Regions from separate parts of the Homo sapiens genome. Here region 2 is linked to region 1. The links come from fine-mapping of genetic effects on gene expression. A gene starts in region 1. The other region holds a variant in brackets. All regions are shown on one strand. Distances are from middle to middle.

Region 1 (5,000 bases):
GTCCCAGTCCCAGGCAGTGAGGGCTTCAGCTGAATCTTTGTTGCTCCTCCATTTCTGATAGTACCCTCCAACCAAGGACCACCAGGAAGCACCTGTAGTTGAACAAGGGAGGCTGAACACCACAGACATCTCAGCAAGAACATGTGTGAAAGGACTTATTACAGGATTGGAACTTTCATTAGGGGACTTCCTAGGCGGGTCCAAAAAGGGGGGCATTTGCTCTGGGTTGGATGCTATCAGGAAGTAGGGATAATTCTTTTTGGTTATCTTAATAATTCTTATCTAGAAGATGGGAGGAATGAATCAAGCTAAAACTGTACTTGGTAAAGAAGCAGCAGTGGCCAGGTGCAGTGGCTCACACCTGTAGTCCCAGCACTTTGGGAGGCCAAGGTGGGCATATCACCGGAGGTCAAGAGTTCAAGACTCACCTGGGCAACTTGGTGAATCCCCGTCTCTACTAAAAATACAGAAATGATCTGGGCATGATGGTGGGTGCCTGTAATCCCAGATACTCTGGAAGCTGAGGCAGGAGAATCGCTTGAACCTGGAGGTGGAGGTTGTGGTAAGCCAAGATTGCATCACTGCACTCCAGCCTGGGTAACAGAGCAAGACTTCATTTCAAAAACAAAACAAAACAAACAAAAACAACAACCAAAAAAAAAGCAGCAGTAACTTACGCTGTGGGAGAGAGGATTGTGTTGGTAATTTTTGTGGTTTGGACAATGTTCTTGTTTCTGTATTGAGGCTTTATTATGGAATGGTCTTTTTCTAGATCAGTCAGAGAGTGACCTTGTCTGATGTTTTTTGTGAAATTATTTTGCTCAACAGGACACCACCATGGCCGTGCTGTTGGTGCCAGGTCAGCTCCTAGCAACATCAAGGCTTCTGGAGTGAGGGTGCAAACCAGCTCCCAGCTGGCAGCAGTTGCTTTTCTCTTTTACACCGCCACACTCGAAATCAGAAAATTGGCAACCCCTTTGGTAGAACATGAGCTCCCGGTCACTACAGGCCCATTTATACCCAGTAACAGGCCCAGGTCACACATTTACACTCCGACCTTCCTCCTGCGTGTGCATCCCTTACACCAACCACGCCCAGAGAAAAGTCACTCGTCTAGCATCTCCCAGGGACCTGCTGGCAGGGCTGAAGATAGAACTCTGACTCTGTGTTTTCCCTCCAGCAACCCCCCTTGCTAGACATTAAGACAGATTGTTAAATCCCTGATGTATCGGCTTCTAAACTGGATGCAGATCGGGTCAGATAAAAACACTTCTCAGTGCACCTTCTTGTCAACAGTGGGTTCCTATCTATTCTTCTTTCTTTTGGGATTGGGTGCTAGGTCCCACGACATTAGCTGGGATTCTAAGACCTTTGCTCAGCTGCTGCGGCCACCACTGACACGCCCTCTGCTCCTCAAATACGGAGAACAGTTCAGTGTTCCTGCCTGAGGATCTCTGCATTTGCCTTCCCTCTGCCTGGAACTCTTCCCTCACATCCGCTTCCCAGCTTCAGCTCGGCATCACCTCCTCAGAGAGGCCTTCCATCCTTGGTGCCCGGGCACCACTGCTACCCGTTTTGGCCTCTGTTTTTTTTTTTTTTTTCAAAGGACGTTATGTTGCCCAGGCTAGAGTGCAACGGTCCGATCACGGATTACTGCAGCTTCCAACTCCTGGCTTCAAGCGCTCCTTCTGCCTCGGCCTCCCGAGTAGCTAGGCTTACAGGCTGGGGTTACAGGTGTGAGCCACAGCGCCCGGCCGCTTTGGCCTCCTTTAAGAGCTTCCCTCCGCGCTTTGTTCGCAGTTCTGGTCACAGTCTGTTCAGTGCGCGGGGCTGGGAGGCGGGAAACTGCCCAATGCCCAGACCTCTCTGTCTGTTTCCCCTCAAGCTCGTGAAGCTCTCTGACAGCAGAGACCCAATCACGAGGTGGAGACTTCGCTTTCCACATCGGGCAGGGGGTCGGCCGCATCCTCGATCTGGTCCTGGTGACTCGAGACCAGAGAGGAGCGCACGTCGACCCGCCCGGGGAACCCGCAGGCCACACGCCAAACCTCTACGGGATCCCCCAGCGAGGCCACTGCGCATGCTCCATACTCGCAGCCCCGCCCCCATTCAGGGGCGGGGCCGCGCCTGCGCAGCTGCCCGGCGCCGGCTTCCGGGTGGTGCGAGCGAGATGGGGCGGAGGGCCGGTCTTGCAGAGTAGCTGCGGTGAGTGGGCGTGTGCGCCGAGCGGTCTGGCCCAAGGGCTGGGGGCCGGCCGAGGGTCTTCGGGAGCAGGCCGCAGGGCGCGGAGAGATCCTGGGATCGCCGTCCGCCGCTGCTACCCGGCATGTCGGCGGAGGCCTCGGGCCCGGCTGCCGCCGCGGCCCCGTCCCTGGAAGCCCCCAAGCCCTCGGGTCTCGAGCCTGGCCCCGCCGCCTACGGTCTCAAGCCGCTGACCCCGAACAGCAAATACGTGAAGCTGAACGTGGGCGGCTCGTTGCACTACACCACGCTGCGCACCCTCACGGGACAGGACACCATGCTCAAAGCCATGTTCAGCGGCCGCGTGGAGGTGCTGACCGATGCCGGAGGTACGAGCGGCGCCCCTACCGTGCCCCCACCCCAGACCCCCAACTCCCGTTCCCCGCAGTCTCTCACCACCGGGGCTCCTCATGCCCCTTCTCTCTGCCCGCTACTGTCCAGTCAACTCATTCTCAGCTCCCTCCAGCCCCCACATCCCATCTCCTCCCCTTTCTCATTCATAATTTCTCTTCTCCTCCCCCAATCCTTTACCCCCAGCAATAACCAACACTTACGGAACCCCTAACTGCCAGGCGCTGTGGTAAGTGATTGAACGTGTCAGTTCATAATCCTCATGACCACCTCTCCCACCCTTCACCCCTCAGCTCAAGACTTGGGAACTAGCCCTGCTGCCTGCAGTACTACTCCTGGCAGCCTTCCTCAGTTTCTTCCGACTGCCCAGCCTTTTGTTTCCCTCTCTGCTTCAGAACTGCTCACAGCCAGCCAGGAGAGCTGGGAGATCTTGTTTGCCTCTGTGTTCCCCTGACACAGGTCCCTGTACACTCTAGGAATCCACCTGTATACACACATTGCAGAAGGAGGCTGCTTTGGGTTTGCCAGGGACACCAGAGTGGAGGGTGGACAGGTCTCCTTGGCAGGTGAACCTTACCTTCTTGGAGTGTTGCATTCAAGTATGGACCCTTCGTGCCCAAGTGAGACTTTGAAGTTTTGGAGTTTGGGAGTGGGAGAGTCTTAAGGGAGGGGTTAACGAGGACTGTGAGAGCAGGAGAATAAAAATTTGAGAGGCGGAGATCTGCCTTCAAGTATCAAAGGTGAAGAATTCGGCCAGGTGCGGTGGCTCACGCCTTTAATCCCAGCACTTTGGGAGGCCGAGGCGGTGGATCACCTGAGGTCAGGAGTTCGAGACCAGCCTGACCAATATGGCGAAACCCCGTCTCTACTAAAAATACAAAAATTAGCCGGGCGTGGTGGTGTGCGCCTGTAGCCCAGCTACTCGGGAGGCTGAGACAGGAGAATCGCTTGAACCTGGGAGGCGGAGGTTGCAGTGAGCCGAGACAGCGCCACTGCACTCCAGCCTGGGCGACAGAGAGAGACTGTCTCAAAAAAAAAAAAAAAAAAGGGAAGAATTCATTTGTCCAATAAGTATTTGTAAAATATCAGTTAGTGCTGGAGATAGGTAAATGAACCTGACAAAATTATGGAAATTCCCTTTTTTTAGGGAAGTGGGAGATCAGAAGACCAATAAGCAAGTAAACAAAATGTATATGCATATGCAATTGCAGATAGTAGTAAGTTCTTTCTTTTTTCTTTTTTTGATAGTAAGCTCTATGAAGAATATAAAAGTTAAAATGGCAGTGAACTGGACGGGGGGAGGTAGACATTTTAATTAAATAGGATGGTGAGAATTAACTTCGGGGGTTAACAGTTTATTGATAAGGTAATTCTGCAAGAACTTTCTCATGGTGAGAGCCTTCTGACTGTAGACCAGATATGGATGAGTTAATTATCTGGTTGAATATGTATAAAAACTTAAGGGAGAACTCGCTGGAGATGTTTTAAAGAGATTTCTTGGCTGTGGCACAGGTTTGAGACAGATCAGTATTCAGACTTTTTTGTGGCTTTGGAATCCTTTTTCTTTTCTTTTCTTTTCTTTTCTTTTTTTTTGAGATGGAGTTTCACTCTTGTTGCCCAGGCTGGAGTGCAATGGCACGATCTCGGCTCACCGCAACCCCCACCTCCCGGATTCAAGCAATTCTCCTGCCTCAGCCTCCTGAGTAGCTGGGATTACAGGCATGCGCCACCATGCCCGGCTAATTTTGTGTTTTTAGTAAAGACGGGATTTCTCCATGTTGGTCAGGCTGGTCTCGAACTCTTGACCTCAGGTGATCCGCCCACCTCGGCCTCCCAAAGTGCTGGGATTACAGGCGTCAGTCACCGTGCCCGGCCTTCTTTTCTTTACTTTTCTTTTTTTATTTTTTTGTTTTGAGACGGAGTTTCCCTCTTATTACCCAGGCTGGAGTGCAATGGCGCGATCTCGGCTCACTGCAAACTCCACCTCCCGGCTTCAAGCGATTCTCCTGCCTCGCCCCCCCCCGAGTAGCTGGCACCAGCCACCAAGCCCAGCTAATTTTGTATTTTTAGTAGAGATGGGGTTTCTCCGTGTTGGTCCTGCTAGTCTCAAACTCCTGACCTCAGGTGATCTGCCTGCCTCAGCCTCCTAAGGTGCTGGGATTATAGGCATGAGCCACCGCGCCTGGCTGGAATCCTTTTTTCTTATAATTTAGGCCAGGTTTGGTGGCTCACACCTATAATCCAAGTACTTGGGAGGCCGAGATGGGAGGATCACTTGAGCCCAGGAGTTCAAGACCAGCCTGGGCAACATAGTGAGACTCCATCTCTACAAAAATTTTTTTTTAATTTAGTAGCTCCAGGTCCCGCAGCAAAGCCATCTTTCCCCCTGCCTCTCCCCACCCCACTAG
Region 2 (5,514 bases), 230 kb before region 1:
TTTTATGTGAAAGCTCTAGATCTTTCAATGTTGGCAACTAATTCAAAAATTTCTAAAAATGTTGTGCGAGCAAAACTAAATATGTCTTTGGTTTGGATGTGGTTTTTCTGGCCAGATTTTTTTTTTTTTTTTTAAAGAAATAGAGACAGGGATTTGCTATGTTGCCCAGGCTGGTCTGAAACTCCTGGCCTCAAGTGATGCTCCCACCGCAGCCTACCAAACTGCTAAGATTATAGGCATGAGCCACCAGGCCCTGCCCTGGCCAGCAATTTTTCTTTTTTGACTCTGTTCTTTGCCCTTGACATGGGCCTGAAATCTCTTTTTTAAAATTAATTTATTTATTTATTTTTGAGACAGAGTCTTGCTCTGTCACCCAGGCTGGAGTGCAGTGGCACCATCTCGGCTCACTGCAACCTCCACCTCCCTGGTTCAAGTGATTCTCCTGCCTCAGCCACCCAAGTACCTGGGACTACAGATATGCACCATCACACCTGACTAATTTTTTAATTTTTTGGTAGAGATAGAATTTCATCACGTTGGTCAGGCTGGTCTCAACCTCCTGACCTCAAATGATCCACCCACCTTGGCCTCCCTAAGTGCTGGGATTACAGATGTGAGTCACTGCGCCTGGCCTGAATTTATTTTTAATTTATATATTTTTTAGAGACAGGGTCTTGCCATGTTGCCCAGGCTTGTCTCGAACTCCTGAACTCAAGCTATCTGCCTCAGCCTCCCAAAGAGCTGGGATTACAGGTGTGAGCCACCGTGCCCAGCCTGGGCCTGAAATCTCTTACTCTTTGTTTCCTACCAAACTTTCATGTATCCTACTTATCCCTTGAAACCTGGCGAGGTGTGGTGGCTCGGCGAGCCGAGATCGCACCACTGTACTCCAGCCTGGGTGACAGAGTGAGACTCCATCTCAAAAATATAAAAATTAAAATAAATAAATAAAACTCAAGTCAAGATTTCCTTCTCTGGGAACTGCCTCTCCCCTGACCCACAGTCACTGCCCAAATGCTTTCCTTTCTGTTTTGTGTTAGTGGCCCTTGCTGTATACCTCAATCATTGTAACTGGTACATTGGATAGTCATTGTTTATATGTCCCCCTCTTCCACAGACTGAGTTGTTGTCTGTTTCTTTGAGACAGGATCTTGCTCTGTCGCCTTGGCTGGGGTGCAGTGGTGTGATTATGGTTCATTGCAGCCTTGACATCCCAGGCTCAAGCAATCCTCCTCCTGCCACAGTCTCCCCAGGAGGTGGGCCCACAGGCACGAGCCACTGGACCTAGCTAATTTTTCATTTTTTGTAGATGAGATCTCACTGTGTCACCCAGGATGGTCTCAAACTCCTGGCCTCAAGTGATCCTCCTGCTTCAGCCTCCCAGAGTGCTGGGGTTACAGGTATGAGCCACACCATGTCTGGCCTTCAAAATGAGTTGCATTTGCCCAGCACAGTGGCCAACACATGGCTGGCATTCAATAGATAAAATCCTCTTTCTTTCCCAACACTGCTAAGCAATGAGCACTTGCATACTCTGCCTCCACCATGTTATTTCCTGGCCAGTCCATCCTCTGTTCCCACTGCTATTACCCTGGCCGAGCAGAACATACCTTACCTCCTCTTCCCCATGGTGATTAGTTTACAGAAGAATTTATGACCTACTGTAGACCAATGAGATTCTTCCCAAGCACCATTGCAGGAACTTTTAGGGATGAGATTTCTTTCGACTCTGGTCGGCAAAATGGCAGAAAGAAGAGGCTGCCTGAAAATGAAGCTAACAGCCGGGCGCAGTGGTTCACATCTGTAATCCCAGCACTTTGGGAGGCCAGGGGAGAATCACTTGAGGCCAGGATTTCAAGACCAGCCTGGGCAACATAGCAAGACCTCATCCCTAAAACAAAAAATTTAAAAATTAGCTGGACAGGCCAGGCATGGAGGCTCATGCCTGTAATCCCAGCACTTTGGGAGGCCGAGGCAGGTGGATCATGAGGTCAGGAGATCGAGACCATCCTGGCTAACACGGTGAAACCCCGTCTCTAATAAAAATACAAAAAATTAGCCGGGCGTGGTGGCACGCGCATGTAGTCCCAGCTACTTCGGAGGCTAAGGCAGGAGAATCGCTTGAACCCGGGAGGCGGAGGTTGTAGCCGAGATTGCACCACTGCACTCCAGCCTGGGCAACAGAGCGAGACTC[C/T]GTCTCAATAAAAAGAAAAAAAAATTAGCTGGACATTGTGGCACTTACCTGTAGTCCCAACTACTTTGGAGGCTGACACGGGAAAATTGCTCGAGCCTCGGAGATTGAGGCTCTAATGAACCATGATTGCACCACTGCATACCACCATAGGCAACAGAGGGAGACCCTGTTTCAAAAAAAAAAAGTAACCAGGCGTGCTGGTGCTTGCCTATAGTCTCAGTGACTCGGGAGGCTGGGACAGGAGGAATGCCTGAGTCCAGGACTTTGAGGTTAGAGTGAGCTGTGATTGCACTACTGGACCCAGCTCTGGGCGACAGAGTGAAACTGTCTCTTAAAAAAATGTTTTTTGTTTTTGTTTTTTGGTTTTTTTTTGAGATGGAGTCTCACTCTTGTTGCCCAGGCTGGAATGCAATGTTGCGATCTCAGCTCACTGCAACCTCTGCCTCCCAGATGCAAGCAATTCTCCCTCGGCTTCCCGAGTAGCTGAGATTACAGGCATGCACCACCATGCCCGGTTATGCACCACCACGCCCGATAATTTTTATGTTTTTAGTAGAGACGGTTTCATCATGTTGGCCAGGCTGGTCTCAAACTCCTGATCTCAGGTGATCCACCCACCTCGGCCTCCTAAAGTGCTAGGATTACAGGTGTGAGCCACTGCGCCCGGCCCAAAAATATGTTTTTTTAATTGAAGCTAACACAGGTAAGGGATTGGTGAGACAAGTTCCTGATGACATTCTTTGAACACCTATTCAGGCTTTCCTGAAGCCAGCTATACACAGGAATTTTAATTTATATCAGTCAATAAATTTATTTCTGGCTGGGTACTATGGCTCACACCTGTAATCCCAGCACTTTGGGAGGCCGAGGCCGGTGGATCATTTGAGGTCAGGAGTTCAAAACCAGCCTGGCCAACATGGTGAAACCCCACCTGTACTAAAAATACAAAAAAAAAATTATCTGGGCGTGGTGATGCACTCCTATAATCCCAGCTACTTGGGAGGCTGAGGCAGGAGAATCACTTGAACCCAGGAGGTGAAGGCTGCAGTGAGCCGAGATCGAGCTACTGCACTCCAGCCTGGGTGACAGACTGAGACTCTGTCTCAAAAACAGAAAAAGAAAAAAAAAAAGAATAGAGGTGAGTTTCACTTCAGTAAGAGAAGACTAGCGACGCCGGGCACAGTGGCTCACGCCTGTAATCCCAGCACTTTGGAAGGCCGAGGCGGGCAGATCACCTGAGGTCAGGAGTTTAAGACCAGCCTGGTCAACACAGGGAAACCCTTTCTCTATTAAAAATACAAAAATTAGCTGGGCGTGGTGGTGCACTCCTGTAATCCCAGCTACTCAGGAGACCAAGACAGGAGAATTGCTTGAACCCAGGAAGCGGAGGTTGCAGTGAGCTGAGATCGTGCCACTGCACTCCAGCTTGGGGGACAGAGCAAGATTCTGTCTCAAAAAAAAAAAAAAGAAGACTAGCAGCACAGATTTCACGAGCAACCTATATATAGCTATTTCAGAATCACAGAATGCAGTCATCTTCTAAAACACAGGCTTAATGATACTCTCCTGCTTTGTAAACTGGAAGAGCTTCTTGGCACTCTCCTGTTAAATCCAAACTCTTCCTTATAACCTCTATTCAGAGTTATGTCCTTTCCAACAGAATTGCCTAATTTTAAGAGCTGGGAGATATTTCTGTTTACTATTTTACATTTCTTTTTTTCTTTTCTTACTTTTTTTTTTTTTTTTCTGAGATGGAGTTTCGCTTTGTCGCCCAGGCTGGAGTGCAGTGGCACGATCTTGGCTCACTTCCAGCTCCGCCTCCCAGGTTCACGTCATTCTCCTGCCTCAGCCTCCCAAGTAGCTGGTACTACAGGTGCCTGCCACCAGGCCCGGCTAATTTTTTGTATTTTTAGTAGAGACGGGGTTTCATCGTGTTAGCCAGGATGATCTCAATCTCCTGACCTCGTGATCCACCTGCCTTGTCCTCCCAAAGTGCTGGGATTAGAGGCGTGAGCCACTGTGCCCGGCCTTTTTTTTTTTTTAAGATGGAGTCTTGCTCTGTCGCCCAGGCTGGAGTGCAGTGGTGTAATCTCAGCTCACAGCAACCTCCGCCTCCTGGGTTCAAGCGATTCTCCTGCCTCAGCCTTCCAAAAAGCTGGGACTACAGGCGCCCACCACCACACCCAGCACAGACGGGGTGGCGGCCGGGCAGAAGCGCTCCTCACTTCCCAGACGGGGTGGCGGCCGGGCAGAGGCTGTAATCTTAGCACTTTAGGAGGCCAAGGCAGGCGGCTGGGAGGTGGAGGTTTTAGCGAGCCGAGATCACGCCACTGCACTCCAGCCTGGGCAACATTGAGCATTGAGTGAGCGAGACTCCGTCTGCAATCCCAGCACCTCAGGAGGCTGAGACGGGCAGATCACTCAAGGTCAGGAGCTGGAGACCAGCCCGGCCAACACGGCGAAACCCCGTCTCCACCAAAAATACAAAAACCAGTCAGGCGTGGCGGCGCATGCCTGCAATCCCAGGCACTCGGCAGGCCGAGGCAGGAGAATCACAGGAGCCTGAGGCAGGGAGGTTGCAGCGAGCCGAGATCACGGCAGTATAGTCCAGCCTCGGCAACAGAGGGAGACTGTTGAAAGAAAGAAAGAGAGAGAGAGAGAGAAAGAAAGGCGGGCAGGCAGGCGTTTTTTCACTTTCTTGACGGTGTTCTTTGAATCACAGAAGTTTCACGTTTTTGTTTCAAATTCTTTTTTTTTTTTTTTTTTTTGAGACAGAGTCTCACTCTGTCCCCCAGTCTGGAATGCAGTGGCACGATCTCGGCTCACTGCAAGCTCCGCCTCCTGGGTTCACACCATTCTCCTGCCTCAGCCTCCTGAGTAGCTGGGACTACAGGCACCAGCCACCACACCCCGCTAATTTTTATTTTTATTTATTTTTATTTTATTTTATTTTATTTTTGTATTTTTAGTAGAGACAGGGTTTTGCCGTGTTAGTCAGGATGGTCTGGATCTCCTGACCTCGTGATCCACCTGCCTTGGCCTCCCAAAGTGCTGGGATTACAGGCGTGAGCCACTGCGCCCGACCAAAATTCTTTTACACTTATTATGATTGTTGAGTATTTTCTATATTTTATTTTAAATCCTGGGATACACGTGCAGGATGTACAGGTTTGTTACATAGGTAAACGTGTGCCATGGTGCTTTGCTGCACCTATCAACCCATCACTTATGTATTAAGCCCTGAATACATTAGCTTTATCCTAATGCTCTTGCTCCCCCGACCCCCCGACAGGCCCCAGTGTATGTTATAAGTTTCACAT

The links. PIP is the estimated chance that this variant, and not a neighbour inherited with it, causes the effect. A credible set is the group of variants that fine-mapping cannot tell apart.
Region 2: its variant is the best candidate, but not a certain one, in a credible set for the expression of KCTD13 in cerebellum (GTEx, PIP 0.86).

What each region holds. Positions count from the first base shown.
Region 1 is chr16:29,923,360-29,928,359 of GRCh38, reverse strand. KCTD13 (potassium channel tetramerization domain containing 13) reads left to right here and starts at 2,134. Exons shown (of 6, transcript NM_178863.5): 1 at 2,134-2,570. The coding sequence starts at 2,327. KCTD13-DT (KCTD13 divergent transcript) reads right to left here and starts at 2,137. Exons shown (of 3, transcript XR_001752362.2): 1 at 678-2,137; 2 at 429-593; 3 at 1-92. RefSeq lists a silencer at 2,229-2,468.
Region 2 is chr16:30,158,032-30,163,545 of GRCh38, reverse strand. No RefSeq gene overlaps it. Among named protein-coding and RNA genes, the nearest start is that of CORO1A, 23 kb to the left of the region's middle. The variant C/T (reference allele first, on the strand shown) is at 2,195.